2 linked regions of the Homo sapiens genome follow. The protein of the gene in region 1 purifies or fractionates together with the protein of each later gene. This does not show direct contact. Each region holds a gene or a part of one and is shown in the gene's direction. Other genes may lie near its edges.

Evidence for each region. The genes of interacting proteins can lie anywhere in the genome.
Region 2: the proteins of KLHL29 (region 1) and ZBTB10 purify together in Homo sapiens (affinity purification with mass spectrometry; 2 studies listed by BioGRID and IntAct, with this or other methods). This does not show direct contact.

The regions. Positions count from the first base shown.
Region 1 is NC_000002.12:23,703,176-23,709,132, forward strand, and holds the end of KLHL29 (kelch-like protein 29), read left to right. Parts: intron 1-10; coding exon 11-204; intron 205-543; coding exon 544-688; intron 689-3,305; coding exon 3,306-3,489; 3' UTR 3,490-5,431; downstream 5,432-5,957.
Region 2 is NC_000008.11:80,517,221-80,524,249, forward strand, and holds part of ZBTB10 (zinc finger and BTB domain-containing protein 10), read left to right. Parts: intron 1-1,182; coding exon 1,183-1,359; intron 1,360-1,561; coding exon 1,562-1,734; intron 1,735-2,002; coding exon 2,003-2,308; 3' UTR 2,309-7,029. UniProt on the Homo sapiens protein: May be involved in transcriptional regulation.

The DNA.
Region 1 (5,957 bases):
TCTCCTGCAGGTACGACACCATCACCAACCAATGGGAGGCGGTGGCCCCTCTGCCCAAGGCAGTACACTCTGCTGCAGCCACAGTGTGTGGCGGCAAGATCTACGTGTTTGGTGGGGTGAACGAGGCAGGCCGAGCTGCCGGCGTCCTCCAGTCTTACGTTCCTCAGACCAACACGTGGAGCTTCATCGAGTCCCCAATGATTGGTGAGAACCAGCGGTGTCCTCAGCCCAGGGCCAGGGTCGCATCCCTGCCTTGCTGATTTGTTCAGTATCCCATGCCCAGAAGTCAGGCTAAGCCCAACAGCTCTGCAGACCCAGATCTAGAGGGTGGCAGGAGTTGCCGAGCCCCCAGCTCAGGTGTCTGGAGAGGGGCAAGTGAGTCAAGGCTCCAGGTTCCCCTAGGCCCCGGACCCATCCCCAGGCCAATCAGTCACTTGTTGGAAGTCTTTCGAGCTTCCTTCCCTGGAGGGTCTTCTGGGAAAGAAAAGGAGAGGGAAGTCCAAGACAAGCTGCCGTGACCTGCCTGCTCTGCTCTCCTCACAGACAACAAGTATGCCCCCGCTGTCACGCTCAATGGCTTCGTTTTCATCCTGGGCGGGGCTTATGCCAGAGCTACCACCATCTACGACCCTGAGAAAGGAAACATTAAGGCGGGCCCAAACATGAACCACTCTCGCCAGTTCTGCAGGTGAGAGGCTGCGGCGCCTTGACTAGGGCTGGGACGGAGGAGTGGGAGGAGGAGGGGTGTGACCACAATGATTTCCTGCCATCAGTGACCATAGCAATTCCCAGGCCCAGAGCAGTGGCCCTCCCCCTCCAACCACAGGAGTGGGCATTAGCCCAGACCAGTAGGGTGGAGCCCACGGCAGCCTCTGGTCCAGGAGCCCAACCCCGGGGCTCCAGCTGGCCCCAGCTCCAGCAGAAATGAACCATTTCCTGAAGGCATCAAGGCTACCCTGCTCTCAGTGAGAGGTGAGGTCAGCTTCCCCCAGGACCACCTGCCCCATCACAGACAGAAGGCAGTGCCAGGCCAGAGCTGTGTGATGCCCTACAGGGACAAGTGACTTCTTGGGGGAATGCTCTGAGGACATGAACGATCCTGATGGCTTTGGGAGCTGTGCTCAGAGTCCCAAAGGCTGACTGGGCAAAAGCACACACAAACCCACCCCTGCAGGCAGAGAAGGTAGAGGGCTGAGTGTGGCTCGGTCCCCAGGCTTTCTGGCCCTGTGGCAGCGAGACACCAGTCCCTGCTCTTCCAGCCCCATCCTTTCCTGGACTAAGAGGAACAAGGAATAAAAAGGGGCCCCAAGGCCAGGTGCAGTGGCTCACACCTGTAATCCCAGCACTTTGGGAGGCCGAGGCGGATGGATCAGTTGAGATCAGGAGTTCAAGACCAGCTTGGCCAACATGGTAAAACCCCGACTCTACTAAAAATACAAAAATTTGCCAGGCGTGGTGGCATGTGCCTGTAATCCCAGCTTCTCAGGAAGCTGAGGCAGGAGAATCGCTTGAACCCGGGAGGCGGAGGTTGCAGTGAGCCGAGATCGCGCCACGGCACTCCAGCCTGGGTGACAGGAAAAGACTCCGTCTCACAAAAAAGAAGGGGCCTCAGAAACCTCATTGTCAGGACTCCCATAGCAGATGCTTCCTGAAGACATCTTGTGCCTATGTAGAGGTAACTGCAGAATCTTCAGTGTGGGAATAGCATGAAGTACTTAGAGTGCCCATTGTTTGTGTAGCATAGCTAGAAAAGATATAACCTCCTACTAGCATGTCAGTGACCTTGGACATATCCCTTCACCTCTCTGAGGAAGTTCTATCTGTGAAACAGGCGGTTGGACCAGACAACTGCTAAGCTCCTGTTGGACTGAGATTTCACAATTCTTGAGCCATACTTCCATGTCATGTACCCTAATGGTGGCAGTGTGCAGAGCACAGTCTGACTACCCCGTCCACTGATGCAGACAACTGGAGCATTGCGCTCCACTTGGGAGGATGCTCGCACCTTCTCTGAGACTAGAAGTAAATGGGAAAGGGCCAGGCACAGTGGCTCACGCCTGTAATCCCAGCACTTTGGGAGGCTGAGGTGAATGGATCACGAGGTCAGGAGTTCAAGACCAGCCTGACCAACATGGTGAAACCCCGTCTCTACTAAAAATACAAAAATTAGCCAGGTGTGGTGGCAGGCGCCTGTAATCCCAGCTAACTCAGGAGGCTGAGGCAGGAGAATTGCTTGAACCTGGGAGGCGGAGGTTGCAGTGAGCTGAGATCACACCACTGCACTCCAGCCTGGTGACAGAGTATGACTCCGTCTCAAAAAAAAAAAAAGAATGGGAAAGACTTAACGGCAAATGGCAGAGTTAAGCTGGGTCTTGCAAGATAATCAGGTAATAGGTGCACCACAGAAGGAAAATATGAGGGCCCCAGATGGCATGAACTAAGGGAGAGAAGACTGGAAGCTTCAGGGTCTGGTAAGAAGTCCAGACTGATGTGTTCTCTTTAAGAGATTTCAGAAACGGGTGGAGCCTTTGAAAAGGTATGTGTCCAATGTCAGGGAATAGCCAGGAAGAAATGGCCATTAGCTGAAATGAAAGAGTGTCAGGGCTAGAAACAAGGATGTGGACGTCAGTGCAAAGAAGTAGCTGAAATGCATTAAGGGAGTCAGTGCAGAGAGGGGCCAGATGCTGAGCCCTCATGATGAGAGGAGCTGACTGAGACAACAGGAGCAAGCCAGTGAGTGTCACACAGGGAAGGGGTCCAGGCACAGCCATCGGTCACCCTGCAGAGCATGCCCGGCCCTTGCAATCCTGGGTGGGCAGCAGCACCAGGTCACACAGAAGCACCTTGGCAGGTGGAGCTCCCAGTCAAGTGGCTGACATTCAATTCCAGCTGAGCTCCTTATTATTCTCTCTCGTCATTCTTGTGAGTCATGTTCCCAATTTGATTTGAGCAGTAGGAAGGCTGCGTGTGCCACACAAGAGCCTCCAGAAAGCCTCAGTGACCTGAGCTGAGTGCCCGCACAGAGATCTTTCGTCTCCTAGCCATGGTTAGTCACTCTGGCGGGGCAGGGAGGGAGCGCCTTCTGCCGCTCGCAGGGTGGCATAGCACGGCTTCCTGACTGGCCCTGGAGGACAGGTGTTTTTCTTATGCCAGCCCAGGTTAGAGGGCAAAGAAGGGCAGCAAGATCCCAGATGCCTTCTGCAAAAGGCACAGGCAGCCTACAACAGGACACGACGTTGAGAACCTATCTCCAGGGCCAAGTTGGAAGTGAAATGCCTAACTCTGTCCCCGCTTTCCCCCAACAGTGCTGTGGTGCTTGATGGCAAGATTTATGCAACTGGAGGTATTGTCAGCAGTGAAGGGCCCGCGCTGGGCAACATGGAGGCCTACGAGCCCACAACCAACACATGGACCCTCCTCCCCCACATGCCCTGCCCTGTGTTCAGACACGGCTGCGTCGTGATAAAGAAATATATTCAAAGCGGCTGACATCAGCAGAAAGCCCACGATAAGACTGTGGACAAGTCTGGTGAGGCAAGTGCCACGCAATGATAATTTTCCAGCGACACCAACAAGAGGCCAACAAAACACAATCAAGGAACTCACTGCGCTCAACATGTTGAATATTCTCTACATTGAATGTAGAAAATCATCCTCGCCTTTGGATGAAACGGAGGCACCGCGCTTGGAGCCGCAGGAACCACGATCCCGCCATGGGGCTGGCTGCCTCCTGAACAGGGGCGCTCGCTCTGCCAGGTGCAATAGAGTTTCACGTATTTTTCAACTGGGAGAGAGAAGCTGTTTTTTCCTTCCTGCAGAGCAAGCTTGATCCCTAAACAACCATAGATCAGTTATCTTATGACAACATTAGGCATCAGGCTCTCTTGGAATAAGATCAAAGTGTCCTTATCACTTTGATTCCTACTTTTGTTTTTTAACCGATCTACACTTTCAGTGGCCGACAGAAAACGAGGGACAATACTGTGCATCACAAGGCCTAGGAGGCTGCTGGTCCCCACTGGGGCTGAAGAGAAGCCCAGCTGCCCACGCGGAGCCAGGGGTGGCAGCTGTGGGACAGCCGGGGAGCAGGGACAGCGGTCTGTCCTTCACAGGTTTTTCTACTGTGTTTTTGCTGGAGAAGGACAGTGATTGCGCTAGCTTTCTCTTACCCGGTATGAATTATTTAGATTTCTGAGGCATTTTCTTGATAAACAAAAGGCTATTTTTAAGTACTGAGAGGAGGAGCAGGCCACAAGAGGGATAATGTTGTGGGAATTCCCAAAGCTCTTTGTAGGTAGTGCCAGAGGGGGGCTTTTGCTCTCATTTTTCTATGTGCAGAATAGAGGATCTCTCCTGGGGTGGGCGATGCCCCCATTTTATTTTTAGAAAAAGTAACTCCCAGACAGCCCCATAAAAGCTGTGCCCAAGGAAGAAGAGTCTGCTCTAGAAGGAGCCCGGTTCTGGCTCAGGACACCGGCCCAGCTCCCTCCATGAGGTCAAGCTGAGGACCAGGCCAGTGGGAAGGGAAGGAGGGAGAATTAGCGTCTATAAAGCACAGGAGACTATTTTTGATATTCATAGCTATATATTAAGGCACCTGCCACAAGAGCTCTCAGGATGGGGACAGCCTTCTTAGTGGAGCCATGGCAGCAAGGCCTGAGGGCATGAACAGAACCACTCTTCTTGTCACATACGAACCTGAGAAAAGGGAAGCCAGGAGGGAGGTCACACCATGGCTCAAAAGGGAAAGGCCTTCCCACTTGTCCTTAGCCCCTCAAACCTCACACGGTCAACAGTTTCCATTCCAGGGCAGGAGAATGCTGCCGCCACTGCGCTGTTGAGTTGAAGTTGGTACCAAATACACATTTACCACTTTTATATCTGGGAAGTCAACTTGCCATCGTTTCATGATAACAACCATTTATAAGAGAAAAAGACAGGACACGCTTTCCATCGTTCAGTATTTGATGACACAAAATTCCAGTTCTAACGTTGGGCATCAACTTCTAGCACTACGAGTGTGGCTCCCACTTGGACAAGATACCGAGCTTCGTTATGCAGTTTTTAATATTATTTATTATTTTAAAAAGTAATAAGCACAAAACTACATACATTGTATGTCATTTAAAGTATTTATGTCAAACAGGGTGCAAGTGTGAACCCAAGGACTGGAGCACAAATTCCTAACTGCCTGGGGCAGGGCTAATGTTAGCATTGGTGTGCGTCTGCCTCCAAAGGAGGTTCTAGTTGTCAGCGAGACTCAACACAGATGACATTGAAATTCGTTTCTCTCCTCATCTATCACACTGGAGCAAAACTGGCTATTTCTGTGAATGATATAAAACAGGGTTCTCTGTAATGGTATTGTACATAGTATATGTTTACTGTTAAGTTCTTGTTATATTATAATAAATATATTTATAGATCTAGACTTGGAAGCCAACGTAATCTTTGTGTGCCATCGTCCTGCCACAGGGATGCAAAACCTGTTCTACCCCTCATACATCAGCTGTATGGGTTCTCTTATAGACTTTAGTGCAGAACTTAATGATTAGAAAGGATGGGACTCCATATTGAGGGAAGGTTTAGAGTTGAAAAGCCAAGAAGACAATTGAAGGTAAAAGTTGAAAGGGACTTGCAAACACGCTGGCACTGGCTCTGAGGCTCTTCCTTTCATTGAAGTGCTCTTCTTATTACACTTGTGCAACTGAAAGCTTCAAAGCTGTTAGCTTCCCACTGGTATCACTGCTGTGCCAGGGACCCACTTAGAGCCACATGGCAAGTCCAGCTCATGAGCCTAAGAGGAGACACAACACACTTTCTCCAGGAAGAGGAATACAGGGTGATTTCTTTTCTTTTCTTTTCTTTTTTTCTTTTTTATTGAGATGGAGTTTCACTCTTGTTGCCCAGACTGGAGTGCAATGGCGCGATCTCAGGCTCACCACAACCTCCGCCTC
Region 2 (7,029 bases), on another chromosome or scaffold:
AACAGACTCTAGGAAGGCAACAGTGGAAGTAGGGAGACAAGTTTTTGGTGGCTACTGAAGACAGTCCAGGGGCTAGAGCTCATGATTGATTGGATCAGGGTGGCAATAGTTGTGGAAGATTCTGGATATATATTCCTATTGCCAAAAGGTTCCTGGTCCAAGGAATTACATTAAAGATGGAATTAAATCCAGTGGATATAATTCCTGTCCTTGCTAATCTGAAGATCCTTAGGCACATGTATTATTCTATTTTGATTCTATCTTCTGCACGTTATTTTATTTAAGGATGGAGTTAGAAAGAAATTTCAGGGAACCCTGAGAGCATTCAGTTACCTTGCCCTAATATGTCTGAAACAAGGATCTAGTAATAGAACTTTACATTTTTAATTATCCTATATATATTCTTTATTCTTAGTCTATTTTTCTGTACCAATTAATCTTAAAATTATGTGCCTGTCCTGGATTCGTAATAAGGAGAATATCCCATTTGATAGCTGGGCTTTAGGGTGATAAAATCTTAAGTGATAGAGTAGTTAGAAAAAGCAACTATTAGGAGTTCTGGTTTGAATATACCCATCCTTTAAAAGGGTAATTTCTTGTGGCGTCTGCACAATTAAATGATATTCATGTTTTTTTCTCCCGCCCGCCACCTTTTTTTTTTTTTTTTTTTTTTTTTGAGACATGATCCCACTGTGTCGCCCTGGCTGGAGTGCAGTGGCGCAATCTTGAATCACTGCAACTCCCGGGCTCAAATGATCTTCCCCAGTAGCTGGGACTGCAGGCACACACCACCATGCCCAGCTAATTTTTAAAATTTTTTTGTAGAGATGGAGATGGAGTTTCTCCATGTTGCCCAGGCTGGTTGCAAACTCCTGGGCTCAAGTGATCCTTCTGCCTCAGCCTCGCAAAGTGCTGGGATTATATGCATGAGCCACTGTGCCTGGCCCATGATTAATTTTTTTAACTGAATTTCTTCTACTATAGTTGAATGGTATTTTGTTTAATTGTGATAATAAAGTAGGAAGACATCTCAATTTTAGACTAAAATACAGTTTTATTTAACTCATACTATGAAATTCTATCATAATGCCTGTAGGATATAAATATAATTTCTGTTTTCTGACTCTGATGAGAGACAGATCTTTATTACCATTATTAATTCAGAATTTTTACTTGTACTAGGTACTTCACATGATTTCAAGTATGGTTTGATGCCTGGTCCTTCAAATGATTTCAAGTATGGATTGATACCAGGTACTTCAAATGATTTCAAGTATGGATTGATACCAGGTGCTTCAAATGATTTCAAGTATGGATTATTGCCAGAATCTTGGCCAAAACAAGAAACCTGGGAAAATGGCAAGTATTAGTCAACTAAACAAATACAGAATTAATTAAATAATTGTTAACAATTAAAAGCTTTCATGTTCTGCATTTTTTAAAAACCAAGTAGCAGTAGCTCCACATAATTGCTGTTCTCAGAGATAGAGATAAGAAGTTTTGATAGCAAGTTTTCTGTTTAATGTGTAATAAGCACTTTCTCTTTTTTTAATTCTCATAGGTGAATCATCTCTAATCATGAACAAGTTAAAATGCCCTCATTGTAGCTATGTAGCCAAATACAGACGAACACTAAAAAGGCACTTGCTCATTCACACAGGAGTGAGATCATTTAGCTGTGATATTTGTGGAAAACTGTTTACTCGAAGAGAACATGTAAAAAGACATTCCCTGGTAAGTAACTTTAAATACAGCTGATCTTTGAGATAAACTATATTTATGTCAGTGAAGTTTAAAGGGATTTAAACAGTTAATTGTGAATTTAAGGAAGATTGTCTCCTAAATTGCTTTAAACAGTTTGACTTTATGAACTGATAGTGAGCTTTTTACAGAGAAACTGGTGTATTCACTCACTATTAAATGTGTGGTTTAATTTGAGTGGTTCAAATGCATTCTATTATATATAATATCCTTATATTGGATTTTTTCCCCCTCCAATTAGGTGCATAAAAAGGATAAAAAATACAAATGTATGGTGTGTAAGAAGATCTTCATGTTAGCAGCCAGTGTTGGAATAAGACATGGATCTCGACGTTATGGTGTTTGTGTAGACTGTGCAGATAAATCACAGCCAGGAGGGCAAGAAGGTGTAGATCAGGGACAGGATACAGAATTCCCTCGGGATGAAGAATACGAGGAGAATGAAGTAGGAGAAGCTGATGAAGAGCTAGTTGATGATGGAGAAGATCAGAATGATCCCTCTCGATGGGATGAATCAGGAGAAGTTTGTATGTCTCTAGATGATTAACTGACCTACTATACTCCTCAAGGATGCTGCATTTGGACCTAATATGAATCGACAATTTGGATTGTTGAACTTGAAGGCTTGCAAAATATGGTACATGCTGGATAGTAGTTATGTTGCTGTGAAAACTGTAGGGTCAAAGCCTTATAGCAAAAAAAATTTTTTTTTATATTTGCACAGGACTATACAGCAAACAACCATGTGGTTGGATTACATGGAGTCCCCACATACTCAGTCAGTTATCAAAGTAAAATATTTTTTATTTATAGGATATACAGTAACTATTTGGGTCCTATGAAAATAGTCCTTAAAGAGCTTACATTCATGTGCTACTTTAACATGAATGGAGAAAATCCGTTTATGGAAGTACAGTGACAATTGACCCAATCACTCTGTCCATCAAACCACTCAGGCTAGTTTGTACTAGTAGAGTTTTGTTTCTATTTTTATTTTTATTAATTTTATTTTTTTTAATACAGATTTTCAGTGAGGGGCTTTTTCAACCCCATTGGTTCTATTTTCTTGTATTTTTCCATTTAATTTGCTTCATAACTTAAACCAAGTCTCTTCTAGTCTTAGGTATTATTTCTCGATTTTGTGCTGATGGGCATGTTTATAAGAACTGGAGAGGTAATTTATTGGAATGAACTAACTGACTTCCTCCATTCCCCTCTTCCTTTTTGACATGAATTTTACTACTTCACAAATGAAGAATGATGTTATGAAGTTACCGTGGCGAAGTTGACAAATACCACTAAAATGATTATGATTTAGAAGTAACTTTCTTCTGCTGCTCTAATCTGATAAATGGTTACTATATGATATTTTCTGACATGGTATTTGGTTTTGGGTATCTGTTACTTTGGCACTATTCTTGTTTGCCTCTTTATTTTTGCCAGTGTACTATACCTCAGTCCTATTTGAAAGACCTAATTGAAAGAAAAATCATAGAAATAAGTAAAATGATTTGTTTTATAATTTATCCACCATGTCCAGTTTGGTTAGCTTGTTATGCAATATAAGTGAAATATCAGGTTTTTACCCGTGTCCCTTTTATCATGAAAATTAACACAAAATGTGCATTCTCTTTTGTTTCATACTTAGCGGGATATTGATTGTTTTGAAATTATGATCAATACTTAATTTATTTTTTTCTGTCCTTGAAGTCACTACACCTTGATACAGTCTTTCTAGTAGTCACCATGATTCAACAGTCTCAAAAATCTTACAAATAAAATTCTGAGAAGCTTTATTATTCTATAAATTCTTCAGGGTACAAAGGGTGACATATTGAGGTGAAATTGTCAGATTTACTTAGCCTGGTGACATGAATTAGCTGATTGTGGAACTCTCAGCAGCATTTCACGTATTGTTAACATGTATGGCATTTATTAGCATATTGTATATTATATAAGATTGAGGGATGTCATATTTTCAGCTTTCTTTTAAATAAAAATTGAGTATATTTTCCTATTTTATATCAGGTAACTAAATTATGCTAGTTATGTGGAAAAAATTGCAAAGATGCTTTGACAGATATAATCCCTTTGGTGCTCCATCTGATCAAAGTTGAAAAGTTGATGTTTTTTAAGAGACAAGCTTTATCATTGTCTCTGATTTCAGTAGAATAATGGTTTATTGTTAGACAATGATGTTTCTGCTTGGATAAATCAAAGATAAATTACAGTTACATGGTTAGATGCATCTTTTGTCATCTATATTGTAGTTTCTACATAACTGTAAACCTGACAGATAAGAATAGTTTCGGTTTGATTTTTGTTTAAAACAGATGAGTACTTCTTAATGTTCTAGACAAATGAGTAAAATGTATTTCTGGTAGAAATTAGTTGGGCAAAGATACTATGAATGAAAAAGTATTTTAAACGTAAAATGTTCTTTGTGAATATGTAAGTATAGTATAAAGATTTCTTTCATCCCATTTATCCCCTTCCTTTAAATAAACTAGTTTACAATTGGTAGATCTGTCTATATATAAATATATATTAAAGAACAAAGATATATATCTAAAAATCACCTAAATCTGCTTTATTAGACTACAGTTCACTTATTGCATAGAAACTGGACTTGGCTTTACATTCTTAATGTACTTTTACTTTTCCTCAAGATATGAACTTACTCTCTTGAAGCTGAATTTTCTTTTACTACTTAAATCATTTATGTATATCTGGTAAATTATGACCAAATTTTTGTTAGATTGCATACAGTAAATTGAAATACACACTTGGTACACTACGGGATTGTTGTGCTTTTGTTTGGTTTTAGTTGGAAATAAGGTTTGATGTAGATGGCTTGTTACTGTTAATTTAAAATATTCTATAATTGTCCATTACTTTATGTTGTGTTGTGACAGATTTGGCTATATTTTTAGTCAATTGAAATATGATACTTTAAAAGTTTGTTTTTAGGTAATCCAAAGGAAAAGTGTTTATACTCTTGAATATATTAGCCTCAGCCTATATAAAAATTTCTTTGAAGTAAACATTTTACCGGAAACAGAATTGACAGATTTTTCTACTTGCTGACTGCCTAACTTATTTTGTTTCATGATCTCGAGGGACTGCCTTTTCCCATCTAGATCTTTTAAAAAAATAGTTTTAGTACTAAGGTATACTACTGGACATTTCTATTTTTTTAAGTGTATTCTTTTTCTGACTTACAGTAAAATTTCAGGAAGTTGATAGATACTAAGAACTTATGATTGGTCTCAGAGGTAACAATGAAATACTCATAATTTTGTCTGTGGAACTCTGGCAGAATTATGTTACACATTTGGCGAAGTTGTCTCTTGTAATTTATATTTTAAATGAAAAAGTATTTTAGAGCTTTTAATGAAGGGGAAGAGTATAAACTTTCTTTCATATTCACTCTGTAGTTACAGACCGTCTCATAAATCAAGATTGTGCATTATTAGAGTTCTCAGAGACAGATACTTCCATATGGACCCCTGTTCATTTTTCTTATTTACTAGATATTTTGCTAAATTTAGCACACTAGCAATTAAGAGTTTAAAAAAGAAGAAACGTTATAGGAAAGGGAAACTGAACAGTAATGAGTAGCTTTGAAATTGGGGAAAACACACTAGCTGGGTTAGGTACAGCTATCCTAATGGAGAAGAGTGAGCTAAATGCGTTAATTCATGTAAAGTGCTTAGAACACTGGTACATAATAGGTGCATAACACATCTTAAAGTTGTTTAATAATAGATAAGAACCAAGAGGAAAAAGAAATAAGAAAAGATGGGGGAAAGGAAGGAGAAAATAGGAAATGAAAGGATTAGGACTTGGGCATTTATATTAATACAAAATGGTGTAAACGGCCTGAATATCACTGTAGTAGTATCATACGGGGGAAAGTGTGATGGAAAATAGGTTTAAAAATCTTAATTTTTAAAACTTTAGTAAGCTTTATTTATATTTTTTAGGATTTTCTGAACATAGCATGAAGGGTTTAGATTCATTTTTCTGAAAAACGATTAAAAAAACTACCAATTTTTTTTTTGAGTGCCCACACTTGCCGTTGTGCTGTATACATGATTTTACCTTAATCCTCTATAAGGTAGGTGCTAATTGTCTCCATTTTATAGATGAGGAAAGGCTCAGAGAAATTCAGAAACTTGGCTAATTTAACACAGCTGTGACAGAGCTCGAATTTGACCACGTCTGATTCTGAAGCCCATACTCTTTCAGGGAGGCTCTATTGCTGCCTCATTAAACAACTCTTGTAGAATTTCAGCTCTTAATGGAGTCTATGGATTATATTTTTCCTATAAGACAGCTGTGTTTAGAATTTTGAGTGTCTTTCCTCCCCCCAATAAATTTCCTTACTACTCTTTCTTCATAAAGCAGTTGTTTTGTCACTTTGACTATATTAAGACACATCAGTGTAGCACATGCTCTTAACTGGCTGTGGCATTTTAATTTTATAAAAGAATGGTTTTTATCTGAAGAACTAGATAGAAACCCCAGTTTTTGTGCCGTTCAGTCACCCAGATCCTTAAACTTAACTATGGTACATAATATCCACACTTAGAACTAACAGGTGTTTAGTCACTTTAGGACTTAAAATGGAAAGTTTTTTTTTTTTTCCTGCTGTATCTCTGCTTTCAACTGAAGTTAAAGAATTCTAGATAGTTTAAAATGTGTTAGGGATAAGCACACTTCAAAAGATGTTTTCTAGCCCTAAATTTTATGACATTGGGTACTTAAATTTGGAGTACACTAGCTATTGAGAACAATATTTTGGGTTGAGGAGAGATGGTTGAGGCCATTATTTAGTGGGAGCATTGGCATTTTGAACACTGTAAACAAAAGAACACTTCCGCCTGCTGTTTGTAAAAGCTCTTTGGGAAGATCTTTTACGAAGACCAACTTTTTAAAATGTAAATTACCTACCTAATATAAGTGTCCTAAGACATGTATGTAAACTTCCGGAACTGTTTTGTCTGTGTATTTAGAAAATACACAAGAATCTTTATTCAAACCTAAAAATATAAACTTGTGAGCACTAAACTGCTTCTGGCTTTGTGAATTTTATTGACTGACATTTAATTCAGATTTCTTTGCAAGTGTACTAATTTAGACTAATTGGGGTAAGGGGAACACCTTAATGAACTTTGACTTATGTATAATTCAGATATCTTTGTACTTAAGGCTTACAAGTTTGAATTATGGAATACTATAAGGGTTTTTTGTTTATTTGTATGT